Homo sapiens: one gene and its partners. The protein of the gene in region 3 purifies or fractionates together with the protein of the main gene of each other region. This does not show direct contact. Each region holds a gene or a part of one and is shown on either strand. Other genes may lie near its edges. The genes, in order: NOL8, SH3BGRL, SDHAF2, CTNNA2, CORO2A and ABCA2.

Region 1 (3,500 bases), on a different chromosome or scaffold from region 3:
TCACTGTGTTCCTCAGGCTGGAGTGCAGTGGCACAGTCATAGCTTACTGTAACCTCAAACTCAGTCTCTCTAGTAGCTAGGACTACAGGCATGTGCCACCATGTCCAGCTAATTTTTGTATTTTCATAGAGACAGGGTCTCGCTGTGTTGCCTAGGCGGGTCTCAAACTCCTGGCCTCAAGTGATCCTCCTGCCTCAGCTTCCCAAAGTGCTGAGATTATAGGCATGGAACCACTGCACCAGACCCCTTCCCAAATTTTGAGGCACAACGTTTTGTCTCAAGTAAGCAGCACAGCCAGCCTATATCACCTTGAGCCTTTTTCAGCATTATAATCTACTTCCCTAATGCTTATTAGATTAAAATTTAAATTGATGTTTTTGATAGTCAAAAGTTGTTGAAATTAGCAGTTTCAACCTAATGCAGTGTAAACTTTTTGTACTTTATTATTTCAATATATGTGTTCGTTTTGTTTCCAACACCTAGCATGCTTTCCTACCACCTCTAGGGATTCAACTCTATCTTTCCTACCTCATAACTTTACCTAGTTTATAAAGCATCTTTTGATTCAGTTAAACACTATCTCAACTTCCTTTGAACCCTTAGAAACTTTGGGGGCATCCCTGTAGAGTACTTAAATTAGCATTTTATTCTAGTTTCTGTTAGTTGGTTATTTATATCCTGCAGTAAGTTGAAAGAGTCATACAGGCTTAGACTACTTTTGTATTTCTGTAATCCAAACTAGCTGTTTAACTTTATTCTGTGATATTTTGTCTGTTTGTAGTAGTTGAGGATAGTAGCTTGTAAAAGTCCATGATGCCTTAGTATGTGTAGGGCATATGGTTTTTTTCCCATAATACTTGTTATTGAATCAAAGACTGAAACAACTATCCACTAATATCTTATATTGTCAGATATACCATTACCATTTTTCACTCTTTATCATTTTTAGATTTACGTAATTTAGATTATGTTTAGAATGTTAAAAAAATCAAAGAGTCTATAATCACTGTAGTTATTAGTATCTTGCTCTATTACATTTGTCGATCTTTACCTTAAAAGTTTTAGACTTGCTACTGAAAGCCATTAAATTCAGACTTTCATAATTAGGAACAGAAGTAGGACTTTTCATTGTCTGGTCACGCAGACTTTCTGAGTTTGCTATGACTGAGGGTCTTTGGTTATGGAGGTTAGTGAAATGAGGTTAAAGTTTCTTCTTCCTGTCTTAATGGATTTTGAACATGTTTAGGTACTTGGTAAATATTTGATGATTGAGACTTCTCAGGCTGTGTTTTCCAAGAGAGTATTAATTATCCCTTTTCCTCAAAGAGGTAAATGAAAAGAAAACTGCTGAGGAAGAAGAGCTTGCTGAAGAAAAAAAGAAAGCCCTGAATGTTGTACAAAGTGTTTTGCAAATCAACTTAAGCAATTCTACAAACAGAGGATCAGTAGCTGCTAAGAAATTTAAGTATGTTTTATGTTCCATCCCATTCTACCATATCATCCTTTGCCATAAATGTCTTCTTGAACTCAATTTAAAACTAGGTCTCTTTTAATGGCCTGGGGAGGCAGCTGGCAATATGTATCAGACCCTTAAAAATATACTTGCCTTTGACCCAGTGATTCACTTCAAGGAACTAATCTTAAATTATTTCTGTATTTATACACTTAGATGTCATAGCAGCATCGCTTTCATTAGTGAAACAAATGGGAAACAGTTTAAATAGTAACTGTAAAAGTATTTATATAAACGTAACTGTTATGGAAATTTTCAGGCATGAAATTTAGAGAGACTAATGAAAGCCCTGTATACCATCATTACCTGTACACCAGGTAATGAAAGCCCTGTACACCATCACCTAGCTTTTACAGTCACCAACATGTGACCAGTGTTCTCTTCTATACCTTTATCCAACCCCTACTTTACACAATGAAATGTTTTATGCAAATCCCAGATAGTATATCATTTTATCTGTATGTATTTTAGTATGTTTAAAATCATTTTAAAAGCTAAAAAAATCCAGGAAATCTCAAAAGTAGGTAGTTTAAAATATTTTTTCGGCTGGGCATGGTGGCTCACACCTGTGATCCTAGCACTTTGGGAGGCTAAGGTGGGCGGATCACCTGAGATCAGGAGTTGGAGAGCAGCCTGGCCAACATGGTGAAACCCCGTCTCTACTAAAAATATAAAAATTAGCCGGGCATGGTGGCACATGCCTGTAATCCCAGCTACTTGGGAGGCTGAGGCAGGAGAATCGCTTGAACTTGGGAGGCGGAGGTTGCAGTGAGCCAAGATCACGCCATTGCACTCCAGCCTGGGCAACACAGCGAGACTCTGTCTCCAAGAAAAATCTATGTATATGTTATTTCTAGTAAGATCCTAGTTATCTTATCTGATGTTATATGGCTTCTTCTTGCTGCAAAATTAGAATCTTCCTAGTGCTGAATTATAATTTGCTACTTACTTTTTGTATTAGTGTTCTGTTTTTATCTCTTCCAACCTCCCTTCCTTTTTTTACATAGGGACATCATACATTATGATCCAACGAAGCAAGACCATGCCACTTACGAAAGAAAAAGAGATGATAAGCCAAAAGAAAGGTAAGTAGAGCTACTTCTTTTAGCAATAGGATCATGTAAATTAATCTCATTTCAGACAATTAAAAATGTAGGTAGGAACCAATATCCTACTCATTGGTCCCACTGTATTAAGATTGGTGGGGTAGGGGTAGTGCAGGTAGAGTTAGAAAGGAATTATTGATGTGGTGGAGGAGGTCTTACCTTTTAACAGAGGAATCTATAAATGATATGTACTCCTATCATTTATACCTTTTATTTGTATAAATGATGCCTTTTATTTGTACTAGTTTCTTGTGTCTTCTGTAGCTACCACAAACTTAGTTACTTAAAATCACAAAAATTATTTCTTTACAGTTCTGGAACCTAGAAGTCCCAAATTAAGATAGTGAACAGGTTATGTTCCTTCTAGAGGTTCAGGGAAACAAAGCTGTTTTATGCCTCTCCTAGTTTCTAGTGACTGCCACCAATCCTTTGGTGTTCCTTGGCTTGAGACTACATTACTCCCATTTCTGCCTCTATCTTCACATGGCCTCTTCTTTTCTGTCTCTCCTCTTTGTGCCTCTTATAAGGACACTTGTGATAGCATTCAGGGCCCACTTGGATAATCCTGGATGGGCTCCTCATCCTAGGACCCTTAACTTAATATCTCTGCAAGACCCCTTATCTAAATAATGTTAACATTCACAGGTTTCAGGAATTAGGACATGGACATAGCTTTTGGGGGGCAACCATTCAACCATCTAGTGTGGTAGGAGCTTCTGTTTCCTATAGATGTGCAGTCAGTTGGATAAACATGGCAAATATATGGAGCAACCAGTAGCAGCTTGGTTTAAATCCTTCATTTTCCAACTGCTAATAGCCACGAAAATCACAAAAGGCAGTGTGGTATCCTGAATTGAATCTTGAAACAACAGGACAATTTG
Region 2 (3,500 bases), on a different chromosome or scaffold from region 3:
CTTGTTTCAAGTAGAAATTCACTGAAAATATTTCACCCCAACTACTGAATCCTTTGAGAAGTTAAAATTATTTACCTGAATCACAAGACCAATTATGTTTTTTCTGAAAGTCTGAGATCAGATTTCATTATTTTTAGTAATAAATTTCCAACAACACTTTGTATTAGGGTTCTCTTAGAGGGGCAGAAGTAGTAGGATATATGTGTGTATATACATATATATATATGGAGTTTATTAAGTATTAACTTACATGATCACAAGGTTCCACAATAGGCTTTCTGCAAGCTGAGGATCAAGGAGAGCCAGTCCAAGTCCCAAAACTGAAGAACTTGAAGTCCGACGTTCAAAGGCAGGAAGCGTCCAGCACGGGAGAAACATGTAAAGTGGGAGGCTAGGCCTGTCTCTCTTTTTCACGTTTTTCTACCTGCTTTATATTTGCTGGAAGCTGATTAGATTGTGCCCAGCAGATTTAGGGTGGATCTGCCTTCCCCAACTCACTGACTTTTTTTTTTTTTGAGACGGAGTCTCGCTCTGTAGCCCAGGCTGGAGTGCAGTGGCACGATCTCGGATCACTGCAAGCTCCGCCTCCCGGGTTCACACCATTCTCCTGCCTCAGCCTCCCGAGTAGCTGGGACTACAGGCGCCCGCCACCACGCCCGGCTAATTTTTTTTGTATTTTCAGTAGAGACGGGGTTTCACCCTGTTAGCCAGGATGGTCTTGATCTCCTGACCTCGTGATCCGCCCGCCTCGGCCCCCACAAAGTGCTGAGATTACAGGCGTGAGCCACCGCGCCCGGCCTCAAATGTTAATCTCTTTTGGCAACACCCACACAGACAGTACCCAGGATTAATACTTTGTATCCCTCAATCCAATCAAGTTGACACTCAGTATTAACCATCACACACTTCTAGAAGCTTTCTTTCATGATACTCTTCATTTTAAGTTACTCATATTCAGCTTGTGAGAATGATGAGAGGCAAAGAAAGTTTTATGACCTACTCAAATCACACAGGCAATAGCCAATAAAACATATCTCACCCTTACAGCTAAAAAAGCTTTAAAATCCCTTCAAAAAACAATTCATCTTATCTACTTTTCATTAGATTGCAATAAAATGATTTTCTTAAATTGAGATAAAGGTACATGTTCTGCATTCTAACTAATAGTATAGGCTGAGCTCTTATAACTTTGATTGTCTCCTCTGATAAACTCAAGTTCTCCACTTGATGTAACAGACCACCAGAATTATCCTTAGTATTTCTATAGACCACGTATTGCTATAGACCAGTTAATTAAGAAGTATTTTTCATGGTTTTTCAAGTTCATCAGAAAAGAAGTATTACAACGACTTGTAAATCAGTTTCAGAGCTGCATTCAGAGTGGGTAATTAGTGAATATCATCAAGTGGGAAGAATAGCATAGGGCTTCAGATCATGGGCCCTGGAATCAGACAAACCTGGGGGGTACTTTACTAGCTCTGTGACCTGGCTAGTTCTCTGAGCCTCTCTTCTTAAAAACAGAGATAATAAGAGTACTAGCTTCATTGAATTGTCAGAAAAATGAAACAATACATGTAAAGTTCTTACCGGTGTGCCTGACTCAATGAATTATAGCTCTTAATATTATTACCCACTAAAGCTGACAATTTGCATGAGAAATTAAAGTAAGATGATTGATCATATGTTTAATAAATTAAGTAATTATATATGCTTGTCTTCCTTCTAAATCAAATTTGATATAACATACTGAAGAGAACGGTCTCCAATATCATACAACTACTATTAAATATATATTTACAGATAATTTTAACAGAAAAACATGCTGCACTTATAATGAAACAACTGGCTGAAAGGTGATGGTGAAACAGAAAATTTTCTCATGTAGTAAATGTTACCTAAGATGAATATTCTCTGGTGTTTGAAAGGTGAAATTTTATTTGTCTTGACTCATTTTTGGAAATCCCCCAAGCAGAAAGGCTTGGCTAGACCCTAACTCTAGGATAGGGTCTCATTTCCAAAAAGGACTAAGCCAAAGGGACAGAAATCAAGGACTAGAGTCTAAAACCAGAGTTTACAAGTTATAGCAGTACTGCCTTCCTGGTTAATTTAGATTTACAGAATCATAGAAACCACCTTTTAATTATGTTGGTCTATAGCCACATAACATGCAAGAGAATCAGTCATAAAAATTCAGTATGTAACACAGGCCAGCATAAGAAAGTACAGACAAATATTATTTTTAAGTGTGCCCTCGATGAATTCATTTGATTTTAAAAAAAGAACCACATTTTAAAAGAACATGGTGCTACTATCCTCCCTACACCCAGCCTGCCCACCAGTGCCAACTCTCATCTCACTCTCGAGTACGGGTTATGAATGAGAACACATTTGCCTACTTAGACATCATCCCCTCTTGAATGGCAATTGTATTTCAAAATCATATAACAGGATTTTTATGTAGTATTGACAATTTCTATTCAATACCTATAAACAGAGGATGTGTAAATAACACAGTGTTTAGGAGTGGGTTCTGAAGTCCGAACAACCAGAGTTCTGATCACAGCCCTGTCATTTCTAGCTCTTCAGTCTTGACCAATGTACCTATGTTTCTGGATCTTAGAGATACCCCCTCCAATTAGGTAAAATGAATCTAATAGTAGTTATTACTATGTTAAAATATTATTGTAAAGATAAATTAAGTAAAATAATGTAGGTAAAGCCCTGGGCACCTTGCCTGACATATACAATGCATAAATAAGTGTTGTCTTTACTATTACTAAAGTCAAATCTTAGCAGCTGAGCATGGTGGCTCACGCGTGTAATCCCAGCACTTTGGAAGGTCGAGGAGGGCGGATCACTTTAGCTGAAGAGTTTGTGACCAGCCTGGGCAACGTGGTGAAAACCTGTCTCTACCAAAAATACAAAAGTTATCTGGGCCTGGTGGTGCATGTCTGTGGTCCCAGCTACTTGAGAGGTTGAAGCAGGAAGATCGCTTGAGCCTGGGAGGCAGAGATTGCAGTGAGCCAAGATCATGCCATCACACCACAGCCTGGGTGACAGAGTGAGACTCCGTCTTAAAAAAAAAAAAAAAAAAAAAAACTTAGTTATGCTAACGAAAGGGCAATACAACAACAAAAAACCTAGCATCATTGAACACTTAAATATACAGTCTTTGAATTTGTTATGATATTTTTAAACTTATATTTGAATTTTTTGCCTGATGTTCTGGCAATCTGCAAGATTTCAAGCAAACCTAATAAAACCAACAGGCAAGACCTGGGCTAGAAAAAAATCTCCTTGCTTAAAATTCTTCTCTGCTGCCCAAGTGTAAAAGGTCAGGTTTGTCTCTCATATTAATGAAAACAGTCATCATAAATGAACCGCCTCGTCTCTCTAAATGTACTTTTGTTTAACCTTGGTCTGGATTGAAGAAAGTAATTAAAGACTGGGTTTAAAAGGCCTCCTAGTGGGCCGCAAAGTAGATCTGAAAGCAAACAGAT
Region 3 (3,500 bases):
AGGCTGGTCTCGAACTCCTGGCCTCAAGTGATCCACCTGCCTCGGCTTCCCAGAGGAGGAGCATGTGATCTCATGCTGAAATTACAGGCATGAGCTACCACACCTGGCCCTATTATAAAGTTAAACATATACACTTACCACATGACCCAGCAAATCCTTCTCCTGAGTATTCACTCAAGAAAAACTAAAACCTATGTTCACAAAATCTGTATGCAAATGTTTACAGTGGCTTCATTTATAATCACCTAAAGCTGGAAATAATCCTAATGTCCCTCAGCTGGTCAAAAGATGAACAGACCATGGTACATCCACACAATGGAATATTACTCAACACAAAAGAATGAACTATTGATACAAGTAACAACAAGGATACGCATCTCAAATGCATTATGCTAAGTCAGGGCAAACTTGTTCTGTAAAGGGTTGGAGAGTAAATATTTGGACTTTGTTGGCTTTCCAGTGATTGTATAAGGCTCCAGACTCTGTCTTATCACTCTTCATACCTGGAACCCATAGACAATGGCTGCTACTTTCTGATACAAATATTGAGTGGAGACACAAAAACAGCAGTCCCGGAGTGTGGCAGAATGAATGACACGTCCCCTAATATCCAGTTTTCATCGATAACAGAATCTCCAACACAGCTGGGCAGATGGAATAGACTATATTATTTTTCCTTATGGTTAGACGTAGCCAAGTAACTAAGCTGTGGCCAATGGCAAATAAGTGGAAGTATGCTGGATAATTTCCTGAGCGGGATCTACAAAGGAGGGGTATGCACTTCCACACACTTTTTCCGGGCTGAAATATGGCTGTCCTGGATCAAGAAGTAGAAAACACATGCTAGGATGAAAGAGCAGCAAGTAGGGGGGACCTGGACCCATGACTTTTTGAAGCCCCTCTATGAGCTCTGGAGTGTGCCTTCCTCTGGACTTCTGTCATGAGAAAGACAGTTCTACCTTGTTTAAGCCATTACTGTTTTGGATGTTTTTTTACTCATAGCCAAAGTTAATCCTAACTATACACAGTTAGAATTCATTCCTCATAAAGGTAGTGCCTGAATGAAACTTTTTTTTTTTTGAGACATAGTCTCACTCTTTTGCCCAGGATGGAGTGCAGTGGTGCAATCTCAGCTCACTGCAATCTCTGTCTCCCAGGCTCAAGCGATTCTCTTGCCTCAGCCTCCCAAGTAGCTGAGACTGCAGTTGTCCGCCACCATGTTCGGCTAATTTTTGAATTTTTGGAGAGATGAGGTTTCGCTGTGTTGGCCAGGCTGCTCTCAAGCTCCTAACCTCAAGCGATCCATCCGCCTCAGCCTCCCAAAGTGCTCAGATTAGAGGCATGAGCCACTGCGGCCGGCCAGAATGAAACTATTGAGGAGCTTTGGCTATGCAGACTTAGTTGTCTGATTCCACTCCATTCCCAGAGTGGTTCTTCTTCAACCTTTGATACTGTGAGCTTCATATACCCTTCCACTAAATTCCTTTTTGCTTAAGTGAGACAAACAAGTTTCCACTCTGTCTCGCAAATAAAGAACTTTAACTGATAAATTTTGTACACTTAACAAAAATTTGAACAGTGTTTGGGTTGAGTGTCTACTTCATGAATAAAAGAAAAAAATTATAAGCCAGGCACAGTGGCTCATGCCTGTAATCCCAGGATTTTGGGAGGCCGAGGCGGGCGGATCACCTGAGGTCAGGAGTTCGAGACTAGCCTGACCAACACAGAGAAACCCTGTCTCTATTAAAAATATAAAATTACCCGGGTGTGGTGACACATGCCTGTAATCCCAGGTACTCAGGAGGCTGAGGCTGGAGAATCGCTTGAACCTGGAAGGTAGAGGTTGCAGTGAGCCGAGATCATGCCATTGCACTCCAGCCTGGGCAACGAGAGTGAAACTCAGTCTCAAAAAAAAAAAAGAAAGAAAAAAATTATCTAGGATACAATTCTAGACTCAAATCAGCCTAAACTGTCCTATTTTCACATTATGCTGCTTATCATACCCAGTACCTGTGGCCCAGTAGTAAATATCCCAGTCATTACTAGGCTCGTTAATCAGGCGGTCATAGAGGTTCAGCTGCTTTTCTGTCATGTGCTGCAGATGTTCTTTAGCAAAAAGACTAAAAACAAGAAAGAAAAAAAGAAAAAGAGGTTGAGAAGGCTGTGTCTAATAAAAGAGAAGTGACACCAAGACTCCTACTCCTGGGAGTCTCTCTGAACCTACTCTGGCTCAGGAAGCTGCCCGATTTAAAAAAAAAGACTCCTAGTCCCATACCTAAGAAGAATGCAGTTTTCCAACATTCCCCTCTTTCTGCTCTCATAGAGCAGGCGGGCTCTTTTGGTTTCTATGGATTCATCAGTTCTCTCCTGCCATGGAGGCAAAGGGATTTCAATCATGTCCTTTTGGGAATCTGTTGGGCTGTCACCTCTGTAGAAGCGTCTGAATGATGTCACACTGAGCAAAGGAGACAATAGGCTGTGCCTTGACAGAGCAAGCATCTGAAATGAACAAACCACAAACATCTTTACAATAATGACGACTATCATCGCTATCATTTACTCAATGCTTACTAGGTGCTGAATGCATTCAATCACATTTAGTCATGAGGAAATTACACTGCTGGCCAGGCGTGGTGGCGCACACCTGTAATCCCAGCACTTTGGGAGGTCAACGCGAGCATGATTACTTGAGTTCAGGAGTTCGAGACCAGCCTGAGCAACATAGCGAGACCCTGTCTCTACCAAAAATACAAAAATTAGCCAGGCATAGTGGGGTAGTCCCACCATGGTGCCTGTGGTCCCAGCTACTCAGGAGGCTGAAGTGGGAAGATCATCTGAGCCTGGGAAGGTCAACGCTGCAGTGAGCTGTGATCGTACCACTGCATTCCAGCCTGGGCAACGGACCCTATCCCCCTGAAAAAAGAAAAGAAATTATGCTGATATTGTCCCCACTTTATAGCCAAGGAAACAGAGGCTCAGGAAGGTTCAATAACTCACCCAAAATCATCCAAATAGTAACTGCAATTAGAATTAAAACACAGTCCTAACTGCAAATGTGTCCCTAACCAGTGCCTTTCCAGAAACTATCCCAGCAGAAATAATTTTTCCTTCCTTTGCACTCCCTTAAAATTCTTACAGTGTGGTTTATACTCTACTCACTCACCTGTGTCAAATCCTGAGCACACAGAGACAGCATGATCCCTAATCCCCCAAAGGCTCCCAATCCAGAGAAGTTGACAACTTATCAAGATATGATGTCAAGGTGGTGACCTCAGCAAGAGGTGAAGATGGTGGAGTAGGAAACCCCAGATCCTCCTTCCCCGATGGAGACACTGAGCCAACAGCAACAAACAAACCAATTCCCTGTGAGAAATCCAGAAACCAGTAAGAGGCTCCTGCTCCCCAGGTGAGCACAAAACCAGCTGCATCGAATCCAGCAGAAAAATTTGTAGCACTCATTTGCCATAGTCTCTTCCCTCCCTGCTCAAGCATGATCATGA
Region 4 (3,500 bases), on a different chromosome or scaffold from region 3:
GTACTTGAAAACACCCTCACTATATAACTCAGATATACTCACGGGGGGAAAGAAATTCACCAAATGTTCACTGAATAGTTGGACTGCAGTGATTTTTATTTTCCAGACTCTTTTTCTTGTTATTTTCTAGATGTTCTACAATGGGCATTTATTACTGTAAGTGCAAAAGACAAAACATGTTCTTTTTGAAACAATGTATCTTCTGTTATTGGATTCTTGAGATACCTCTGTATAGATAATGCCAAAATATTTCTCTACTCCCAGCCTCTCCCCTTCACTCTAGTCTCACTTTTCAGCTACCTACCGAGTAGTTATCAGTGTCCCAGCTTTAGTTCTCCTGAATGTGATTTCTCCACCTCTCCCACTGCTGTGCTCATTGATCTCATCTCCCTGGCAGGCCAGCCCTGTCCCAGTTCCCAGACCAAGACAGGACTGAATCTGAAAGTACTAATACAAGGTCACCCCCTCCTCCATACTCTTATTCCCATCCATTGCTGAAGCAAAGTTGCTGATTCTGTGTCAGCCTGGATTTTTGCCCCACGCCACTGTGGCATCAGTACCACACTGCAGGACACACTCGATCATTCTGTCTGGTATTAAACTGTTCAGGTATTCATCTTATAGCCCCTACTAGATTGTCAACTTATGAGACAAGGCACTGTGTCTTACTCACGTATGGCTCCAGGACCGTGCCCCTCAAAACAGTGGTTTCGATAACTTGTAGGAAAGCATTTGTAAATGGCTGTTACATATGACCAGAAATCTGAGGATCTGTTTGAAGATGGAGCGAGTTCAGAGACTTAGTTGAATCAACAAGCATTTATGAAGGAATTACTGTGGGCCCAGCAATGACACAGGAGAATACTAGAAAAATGGAAGGTGCGGCTCCTATCCTTAAGACAGAATCTAGAGTGGTTGAGAACACCTTAGGAAAAAAAGTAGAAAATAATTACTGTTTTGGCTTCTGCCTTAACAAGCAAAACATGAAAATCTTCTTGCCTGAGGTCCTGATTTCACAGATGGGCAAACTGCAATCGAATTTGCCTGCCTGGATTCCAGACTACTGCCAGCACTGACTTTTGCTTCCTGTCCCAACTCCATGGGCCCCAATGTGCTTGGCTTTGCTTGTCACTATTTGTATGCTTGCCCACTTTAAATTGTTCCCTTGGGTCCAGATTCCCTGCCCCTCCAGTTCATGCTGTGGGCTAGAATCTAAATTTTCTCCTTCTTGTGCCACGTTGCCCTCTGTCACCTGTTTCTGCATACACTCTCCCACAATAAAAAGTTGTGACCACAATCTCAGCTTTTTGCTTCAACCTCTTGCCAAAACCTGAGAACAAGGCAGGCCTCTATATCAAATTGTAACAAACACTGCTGCTTACTTACCCAACAATCATTTACCTCTTCCTCATTAAAAGAATTGCTACTCTGTTCATCAGTCCCCTAACCTCCTCCACCCAGTGAAGGCTAATCCCATACATAGTCCCAGCCAGTAAATCCTGATTTAGTCTAAGCGCCTATCATTCATGGTATTCCCATTCCCCTTGCCATTGACTAGACTGGGAATGTCCATGTGATTCAGTGCTGGCCAGTGACATAAGAGAGAAGTCTGCAGGAGGGCTTTTGGCAAAAACCTCCTCATTCTGCAGGAAGAGACGCTGCTGCTGCATGACGGTGTGCTAGGAACTAAAGAAGTGATCATAGCACCGGCTGAGGAAGCAGTCAACATGCAGACTGAGCACAGACAAGAGAAATGTAGAAAGCAGAAATTAAGCCCATGTCTCCCATCCTCTGCATTTCTTGTCATTTTAGAAATCTTTTCCAATGTATTCCCCTTCCTCTGCTGCCAGGTAACATATATTAAATAGCGCACCTTAAAATTTATATATATATATATATATATATATATATATATATATATATATATATATATATATATATATCAGCAGCTTTGTTTTCTATCTCAAAGGGGTAACTTTCAAATAGGAATTTGACAGGTATTTTGGTTGTTTTTAGTTTGAAGCTATTATGAGTATGCTGTTATTAATTTTCATGCAAAAGTCCTTGTACATATGTTTTCATTTCACCTGGGAGTGGAGTTTCTGGATCGTATGGTAAGAGTATTTTTAACATTAAGAGAAACTGCCAAACTGTTTCCCAAAGTATTACATTCCCACCAGCAATGTATGAGTATCACAGTTGCTTCACATCCTCTCCAAAACTTGGTATTGCCAGTCTTTACAACTTAGTCATTTTAGTGTTTGGATAGTGGTATCACACTGTGGTTTTAAATTTAATTATTTCGGTGAATTATAGAGTTATCATGTGCTCATTAGATATTTGTATATTTTCTTGTGTGAAATATCTCAGCACATATTTTGTTCATTTTTTAGATGGATTGCCTGTCTTCTTACTGAGTTGCAAGAGTTCTATACATAGTCTAGATAAAGTCCTTTGTCAAACATACAGAGAGAGACATGTAGTTCTAACAAACCTTTTGTCTTTTGAAGAGCAAAACTTCTTTCTTTAACTTTGATAAAGTCTAATGCATATTTTCTTTTAAATTTTATGATTAGTGCTTTTTGGGTCCTAAGGGATCTTTGCCTAATCCAACATCACAGATTATCTCCTATATTTTCTTCTAGAAGTTTATGTACTCAAAATCATAGATTGATCCCACAAACATTATGCTCAATGCAAAAAGGAATATAAAAATGAGCACATATTCTGTGATTCAACCTATATCAATTTCTAGAATAGGAAAAAAGAATCTATAGTGACAGAGAGCAGATCAGTCGGAAGAGAAGATTTTAGGGTAACAGATATATTCTGTATCTTGATCGCACTGCTGGTTACACAGGTGTGTTTGTCAATCCACAACAAAGTATTCACTTAAAATGGGTACACTTTATTGTATAAAACATATGCCCAAAATTTTACTAAAATAATTTTAATGGGAATTTGGAGCTGGATTGGTAGGAAGACTGGTGACCACCAGGTCCTCTGAAATAGAATTTAGGGGGATAAGCAAGGCTTTGCTATGCCTGAGGCAGAAATATTAACCTTAAAGCATATATAATTTCTTAAATAAACATTACTTCATTCTAAATGCATAAATGCCATATAGTCTTTCACAAACATTGGCATGGCCGAAACAAGCCAACCACACACTGGGAGAGTCCCTAAATAGTGGTAGCAACTGACTTGTACCTTCAATGTAGGAAGAAGTTTCAAAATGAAAGAGAGGGAAGGATGGAGAGATAAGAAAAGACAGGTTACTTAGTCCCTCACAGTTTGCCCAGAGACTGTGAAGCTAAATTTGCAATTTTATTGGGAAAGGGAAAGCATATGCCACTGAAGGTGAAGTTTTTTTTTCCTTATGCAGCAGAAGTTTATGTTTCAAAAGAAAAAACAAATGGAACACAATGAAAACAAATCATTTGCCTTGAAATTTTAAGAAAAAAACACATGTAGAATTATAGAATTTTATAGCTAGATAT
Region 5 (3,500 bases), on a different chromosome or scaffold from region 3:
TCCAGCCTGGGCAATAAAGTGAGACCCTGTCTCAAAAAAATAAGATAAAATCTAAAATAAAATGAATATCCCCTCATCACCCTCCTGCCTTGATGACAGGGCCCCCAGTTTCCTGGTGTTCCCTTGAGTGAGATGGGTTTGCCGATCATCAAAAAAAGCCAGGTCTTTGCTGCATGGCTGGGTTGCTGATGAGCTGATGAGCTCCAGCTCTGAATCTCACCCTCCTCTTCCTTCTCCTCCTCCTCAGGGAGATGGCAACATCCGCTACTACGAGGTGAGCGCCGACAAGCCTCACCTGAGCTACCTGACTGAGTACCGCTCCTATAACCCACAGAAGGGGATCGGTAAGTGAGGGACACTGAAGTTCATGCCTGTAATCCCAGCACTTCGGGAGGCCGAGGTGGGAGAATCAGGGTCAGGGCTTCAGTGCGGGGTCTGGGGAGACAGGGATGAGTCAGATGGGAGGAGAGACAGCATAGCAACACTCTGACTTGGTGGGGGCTGTACTTGACGTGTGCAACAGCACAAAGGAGGAAGTCAGGGAAGGCTTCTCAGAGGAGGCAACATTGGAGGAACTGAAAGAGGAAGCAGAGCCCAGCAGGGGAGAGAGGGATGTGTTCTAGGTCAAGGTTAAGCAGTTACCACAAGAGCAGAGATGGAAAGGGCTGACCTAGAAGAGCCTCTAGGAAGCAGTCCTCAGTTCCTTTCTAAGTGTGCTTGAGGATTAAAAACACAGCTATATTTCTGTAATCTACAAGAAACCCACTTTAAACATAAAGACATGGCTAGATTAAAAGTAAGGGACTGGAGAAAGATGCACCCTGCTAACCCTACTCAAAAGGAATCTGGAGCGGTTTGATTAAGAGCATTTGGGTCACAGGAGCTGTGGGGATGGAGATGGGGAACCTTAAGCAGAGCAAACTGCCTATAAAAGTTCAGCTAATCCAGCACTTTGGGAGGCCAAAGCTGGAGGATCACTTGAGCCTAGGAATTCGAGCCTAGCCTGGGCAACAAAGTGAGACTCCTGTCTCTACAAATAAATAAAAAAATTGAGGTGCATACCTGTGGTCCCAGCTACTTGGGACGCTAAGGCAGGAGGATCGCTTGAGCCCAGGAGTGTGAGACTGCGGTGAGCTATGATTGTGCCACTGCACTCCAGCCTGGGCAACAGAGTGAGACCTTGTGTCAAAAAGAAAAAAATTCAGCTAAAATAATTTAAATCTTTGAAGGTGAAGAGTCTGATTAATTCAACTCCATTTCCCAACATAGGGCCCAGCCCAGTGTCGGTATTTGTCCCTGAGCTGTTTTCTGGGAGGAGACTGGTCTCTGTTCAGGTCCAGGTGTGCAGCCTGGCTTTGGCCCTAACACTGTGGCCCCAGCCTAGCCAGAACCTCTTGGCCCTCCCTGTCTGCCTTCAGGTGTCATGCCAAAGAGAGGACTCGACGTGTCCTCCTGCGAGATCTTCCGCTTCTACAAGCTGATCACAACCAAAAGCCTCATCGAGCCCATCTCCATGATTGTGCCCCGGCGGGTAAGGGCAGTCGGGACCGCATGGGAGGCAGGTGGGGAACCTGTCCTGGAGAAGACAGACCCAGGGCTGTCGGGCACCAGAGCCTGGAGCCCACGTTCATGGGGCAGCCACAGAGCGGCCTTTCTCACAGCCAGTGTGACATCAGTGGGCGTCAGGAGTCCTGGGTCTCGGTCCACCTCTGTTCTTGAGCTGCTGCGTGACCTCGGGCAAGTCCCTTTGTTCTCTGGGCCTCAGTTTCCTCAATTCAGCAGGGGTTGGTGAGAGCCTGGACTCCCAGGTCTAAGGGCCTTTCCCATCTGAGCAGCCTACCCTACCACCCTCCTCACTGTCTGGATTTCTCCTGCAGTCAGAATCCTACCAAGAGGACATATACCCTCCAACAGCAGGGGCCCAGCCCTCCCTGACGGCCCAGGAGTGGCTCAGCGGGATGAATCGAGGTGAGGAAGGCAGAGAAGAGGCCCAGGCAAATGTGACAGGAACATGGCGTGCCCAGTGGCCCCAAGCAATTGAGAGGGGTTGGGCCTGGATTTTTCTTCTCTCATGACCTCAGAAGCCATGCCCTTGACCTTCAGTCCCCAGTGGGTAGCATGGTCACATACAGGTCCAGAAAGTCAGGGGGCTTGACCCAAGAGCTCAGAAAACTCCAACTCAAGGGACTTTGCCCCACGGAAAGCTTCTTTACACTCTGGGGCTATGTGGGGTGCCTGGACCACCTCAGCCAGACTCCCTGTCCCTGTTCCCCACCCCTACCTCTGCAATTCTTTTTTTTTTTTTTTTTTTTTTTTTTTTGAGACAGAGTCTCGCTTTGTTGCCCAGGCTGGAGTGCAGTGGTACAATCTCAGCTCACTGCAACCTCCACCCCACCCCCAGGTTCAAGTGATTCTCATGCCTCAGCCTCCTGAGTAGCTGGGACTACAGGCACGTGCCACCATGCCCAGCTAATTTTTCGTATTTTTAGTAGAGATGGGGGTTTTGCCATGTTGGCCAGGCTGGTCTCAAACTCTTGACCTCAAGTGATCCACCTGCCTCGGCCTCCCGAAGTGCTGGGATTACAGGTGCGAGCCACTGGGCCTGGCCTTTTGCAATTCTTCTTGACCCAAGAAGCCCTCCAGGCAGCAACCCCCACCCAGGTCCCTCTGCCCACTCTGCCTGTCCTGAGCCACTCTCCCGCTCCTGCCAACACGGGGGCCAGCCCAGCAGAAGCAGTCACCCCAGCTGCTCCCTCTCCCTTCCACCCCCACAAACTTCCTTCACCCCCACCCCAGTGGCTGAGCGGGCCTCCTGGTGTACTGGAAGAGCCTCTGCCTTGGGGGGCAGCGGACCAGGGCCGAGTCCTAGTTTTGGATAACCTTAAGTAGGTTTTGCTCCCTGGGCCTCAGTTTCCTCATCTGTAGCCATGATGCCAGCCTCCCCTGCTTTCTGGAGGTGGTGAGAGAACTAATGAACTTGGTAGATGGTGGGGTGCAGTGTGGGTGGGACTGTCCTTACAAAGCAAGGGCAAGGTCTCATGTGAGTTTGAAGTGTTTGGGGGCTGCTTCAGTGCACGCACCGTGCTGTTCCTACAAACCAAGCTTCACTCTGAGGGTGGCACACGTGGGTATTTGTATCTGTTAGCCCTGCTCTGTGGGTTTGGGCCTGTCCACAGGTAGCTGTATTTCCCACACATGTTGCATGGGTCTGCATGGCTCTGAGTGTCTCTGCATGCCTGCCTGTGTCATTGGTGCCCCATATGCCCATCTTCCCGTGGGCACCCCGTCCTCACATGGCTCTGCTTCCCTTCCAGACCCAATCCTGGTGTCCCTTAGGCCTGGCTCTGAGCTGCTGAGACCCCACCCACTGCCTGCAGAGAGACCTATCTTCAATTCCATGGCCCCAGCCTCACCCCGGCTCTTGAATCAGACAGAAAAGCTGGCTGCAGAAGATGGCTGGAGGTCTTCCTCCCTGTTGGAGGAGAAGATGCCAAGGTGGG
Region 6 (3,500 bases), on a different chromosome or scaffold from region 3:
GAGGCATGTCGTGGGACCCAGGCAGCCCCAGAGCCAGCCAGTGGGTGGGGCAGGGTGAGGCCTGAGGCCCTAGTGGTTGGGGACAAAGTCCTTGCCGTGGCTCCACGGACCCCTGTGCCCATCCCAGGAGCTGCTGCTGGCTCCTGCCCTCCTGGAGCAGCTCACCTGCACGCCGGGCTCGGGGGAGCTGGGCCGGATCCTCACTGTGCCTGAGAGTCAGAAGGGAGCCCTGCAGGGCTACCGGGATGCTGTCTGCAGTGGGCAGGCTGCTGCGCGTGCCAGGCGCTTCTCTGGGCTGTCTGCTGAGCTCCGGAACCAGCTGGACGTGGCCAAGGTCTCCCAGCAGGTGAGGCCCTGCCTGCCCACTGCCCGCTGCGCTGCTTGCTGCCTGAGTTGAAGGAGGGGCTGGGACCGCTTGGAGAGCTCAGGGCTCCTGGGCCCAGGCTGTGCGTGGGATGCTGCCTGTGGGTGGGTATCCAATGGCACCATGGCTGGTGCCCCACTCCTGCTCACCATCCCAGCTCCTGTCCTGGGCTCCCGTTACCCAGGCTGCAGACTCCCTCCCAGCACCCCTAGCTTGTGTCTCCCTGCTGCTGTCTCCCTGCTCCACTCCTGACCTATCACCCACCTGCAGTCCATCTCACCCCGCACTGCCCACGTGCCTGTTTCCCCTCAGCTGGGCCTGGATGCCCCCAACGGCTCGGACTCCTCGCCACAGGCGCCACCCCCACGGAGGCTGCAGGCGCTTCTGGGGGACCTGCTGGATGCCCAGAAGGTTCTGCAGGATGTGGATGTCCTGTCGGCCCTGGCCCTGCTACTGCCCCAGGGTGCCTGCACTGGCCGGACCCCCGGACCCCCAGCCAGTGGTGCGGGTGGGGCGGCCAATGGCACTGGGGCAGGGGCAGTCATGGGCCCCAACGCCACCGCTGAGGAGGGCGCACCCTCTGCTGCAGCACTGGCCACCCCGGACACGCTGCAGGGCCAGTGCTCAGCCTTCGTACAGCTCTGGGCCGGCCTGCAGCCCATCTTGTGTGGCAACAACCGGTAGGTGGGCGGCAGGGGAATGGGGGTGAGGAGGACAGCCAGGGGCAGGGCGTGAGCCCTGAATCTAGGCTCTGGCTCTGGAGGTCTCATTTGGCGCCCTGCCCTGTGCCCCGAAGTCCTGCCCCATCCCGATGCCCCTCCCACTCTCGCGGCCCTGCCCCCTAACGGCCTGGCCCGGCCCCCTGTCCCCTACCCCAGCACCATTGAACCCGAGGCGCTGCGGCGGGGCAACATGAGCTCCCTGGGCTTCACGAGCAAGGAGCAGCGGAACCTGGGCCTCCTCGTGCACCTCATGACCAGCAACCCCAAAATCCTGTACGCGCCTGCGGGCTCTGAGGTCGACCGCGTCATCCTCAAGGTGCACGGGTCTGGGACGCTCCATGTTTGACAGGCAGAGTGGGAGGGGGTCTCTGCAGGCCTGGGACCCCTGGGCAGAGGGTGTCGGCAGAATTGACACGGGAGGGGTACGGGGTGCAGCTTCGGATGGGACACAGGCTCTGCAGGTGGGGGACCAGGGGGTCGCTTTTCCTTTCGGGAGCTCCAGGGGCTGCTGTGGGAAGGCACTGGAGAGTCTGCTCTGGCAGGGTCCTCCGGCTGGGGGTGGCCGGTCCAGGGCAGTGCTGGTGGAGGAGGGGTGTGTCCAGAGACCTTCCAGAGTGTCTCGTGGGCGGGCAGCTGGGCAGTTTGGGTTCTGGGTGAGGGGTCCTGTCTGGAACAAGCAGAGGCCAGGGCTGGACATTGGCCTGGGAGGGGAGGGCCTGTGGACGAGGCCAATCCTGGGTGTAGAGGGGGTCCCTAGGATGAGGGTGGGACAGATGAGGGTGGAGCATTGGGTGCTTAAGGGACACATGGAGACAGGTCCAGCAAAGGAGCTGGTGGGCACAGCTGGGCAGTTGGGGGTCCGGAGGCCGTGCTGCCCTGGGAGTGGAGGGCAAAGCAGGTTTCACCTGAGCGCCGCAGAAAGGAGTGGAGAGCCCGGGCGTGGGACTCACGCTTGAAATCCCAGCACTTTGGGAAGCCATGGTGGGAGGATCGCTTGAGCTCAGGAGTTTGAGACAAGCCCGAGCAACATAGCGGAAGCCCGTCTCTACCAAAAATACAAAATTAGCCAGGCGTGGTGGTGGGCACCTGTAATCCCAGCTACTTGGAGGGCTGAGGCGGGAGGATCCCTTGAGCCTGGGAGGTGGAGGCTGCAGTGAGCTGGGACTGCACCACTGCACTCCAGCGTGGGTGACTGAGACCCTGTCTCAGGAAAAAAAAAAAAAAAAAGGTGGGGAGGGTTAGTTGTTGGCAATGGACCAGCCACTGGGGAGGTGAGTGGGGTGAGAGCCCCCAAGTCGGTGGGGGTCCGTCCAGAAACTCCATGCCCCTGCCTCACCCCCTGCAGGCCAACGAGACTTTTGCTTTTGTGGGCAACGTGACTCACTATGCCCAGGTCTGGCTCAACATCTCGGCGGAGATCCGCAGCTTCCTGGAGCAGGGCAGGCTGCAGCAACACCTGCGCTGGCTGCAGCAGGTGCCAAGGGTGCCCGCGAGGGAGGCGGCTGTGGGTGGTGTGGGGAGCCCCTCTCTGCCCGGCTCGGCAGGCGCAGGTCCCCCTCTGAGCCGCCCCTCCACCCCAAGTATGTAGCAGAGCTGCGGCTGCACCCCGAGGCACTGAACCTGTCACTGGATGAGCTGCCGCCGGCCCTGAGACAGGACAACTTCTCGCTGCCCAGTGGCATGGCCCTCCTGCAGCAGCTGGATACCATTGACAACGCGGCCTGCGGCTGGATCCAGTTCATGTCCAAGGTGAGCGGTGGGGCCTCCGAGCCAACCCACGACACCCCCTGCCTCGCACATGCCCACGGCGGGCTCCAGCGATGCCCCTCCCGCTAGGTGAGCGTGGACATCTTCAAGGGCTTCCCCGACGAGGAGAGCATTGTCAACTACACCCTCAACCAGGCCTACCAGGACAACGTCACTGTTTTTGCCAGTGAGCTGCCCTCCCCGCCCCGCCCCAGCCCCCCACAGACCTCTTCCTCCCCAGCCCAGCCCCACCCGTCCCCCTGTGCCCTCCCACTCCTTGGCCGCGCCCTGGCCTTCCCCCCTCACCCGCCACTTCCCCTCCCCACCCCTGCCCCTTCCAAACGGCCCCAACCCACAACCCGCCCCCTCCCTGCACCTCCCCACTTCTGCCCACCTTTCCCCTGGGGCCCCCACCCCAGCCCTGTCCCACCTTTCCCTGGACCCTCCTGTCCCCGCCCCCACACCTTGGCCCCGCCCCCGTGCCTTGCTTTCCCCCCCACCACGCCTTGGTCCCGCCCCTGCATCTTGGCCCCGCCCCAACCTCCCGGCCCCAGGTGTGATCTTCCAGACCCGGAAGGACGGCTCGCTCCCGCCTCACGTGCACTACAAGATCCGCCAGAACTCCAGCTTCACCGAGAAAACCAACGAGATCCGCCGCGCCTACTGGC

Evidence for each region.
Region 1: the proteins of SDHAF2 (region 3) and NOL8 purify together in Homo sapiens (affinity purification with mass spectrometry; one large-scale study listed by BioGRID and IntAct). This does not show direct contact.
Region 2: the proteins of SDHAF2 (region 3) and SH3BGRL fractionate together in Homo sapiens (co-fractionation; one large-scale study listed by BioGRID). This does not show direct contact.
Region 4: the proteins of SDHAF2 (region 3) and CTNNA2 purify together in Homo sapiens (affinity purification with mass spectrometry; one large-scale study listed by BioGRID and IntAct). This does not show direct contact.
Region 5: the proteins of SDHAF2 (region 3) and CORO2A purify together in Homo sapiens (affinity purification with mass spectrometry; one large-scale study listed by BioGRID and IntAct). This does not show direct contact.
Region 6: the proteins of SDHAF2 (region 3) and ABCA2 purify together in Homo sapiens (affinity purification with mass spectrometry; one large-scale study listed by BioGRID and IntAct). This does not show direct contact.

The regions. Positions count from the first base shown.
Region 1 is NC_000009.12:92,304,851-92,308,350, reverse strand, and holds part of NOL8 (nucleolar protein 8), read left to right. Parts: intron 1-1,326; coding exon 1,327-1,465; intron 1,466-2,520; coding exon 2,521-2,598; coding exon of another isoform or gene 2,599-2,602; exon of another isoform or gene 2,603-2,603; intron 2,604-3,500. UniProt on the Homo sapiens protein: Plays an essential role in the survival of diffuse-type gastric cancer cells. Acts as a nucleolar anchoring protein for DDX47. May be involved in regulation of gene expression at the post-transcriptional level or in ribosome biogenesis in cancer cells.
Region 2 is NC_000023.11:81,208,602-81,212,101, reverse strand, and holds part of SH3BGRL (adapter SH3BGRL), read right to left. Parts: intron 1-3,500. UniProt on the Homo sapiens protein: Appears to function as an adapter protein that bridges proteins together or proteins with mRNAs. May function as a ubiquitin ligase-substrate adapter.
Region 3 is NC_000011.10:61,436,624-61,440,123, reverse strand, and holds part of SDHAF2 (succinate dehydrogenase assembly factor 2, mitochondrial), read right to left. Parts: intron 2,500-3,500; coding exon 2,276-2,499; intron 2,121-2,275; coding exon 2,011-2,120; intron 1-2,010.
Region 4 is NC_000002.12:79,519,551-79,523,050, reverse strand, and holds part of CTNNA2 (catenin alpha-2), read right to left. Parts: intron 1-3,500. UniProt on the Homo sapiens protein: May function as a linker between cadherin adhesion receptors and the cytoskeleton to regulate cell-cell adhesion and differentiation in the nervous system. Required for proper regulation of cortical neuronal migration and neurite growth.
Region 5 is NC_000009.12:98,126,638-98,130,137, reverse strand, and holds part of CORO2A (coronin-2A), read left to right. Parts: intron 1-247; coding exon 248-344; intron 345-1,418; coding exon 1,419-1,531; intron 1,532-1,877; coding exon 1,878-1,968; intron 1,969-3,314; coding exon 3,315-3,500.
Region 6 is NC_000009.12:137,018,238-137,021,737, reverse strand, and holds part of ABCA2 (ATP-binding cassette sub-family A member 2), read left to right. Parts: intron 1-127; coding exon 128-346; intron 347-676; coding exon 677-1,044; intron 1,045-1,242; coding exon 1,243-1,402; intron 1,403-2,431; coding exon 2,432-2,560; intron 2,561-2,667; coding exon 2,668-2,835; intron 2,836-2,922; coding exon 2,923-3,019; intron 3,020-3,386; coding exon 3,387-3,500. UniProt on the Homo sapiens protein: Probable lipid transporter that modulates cholesterol sequestration in the late endosome/lysosome by regulating the intracellular sphingolipid metabolism, in turn participates in cholesterol homeostasis.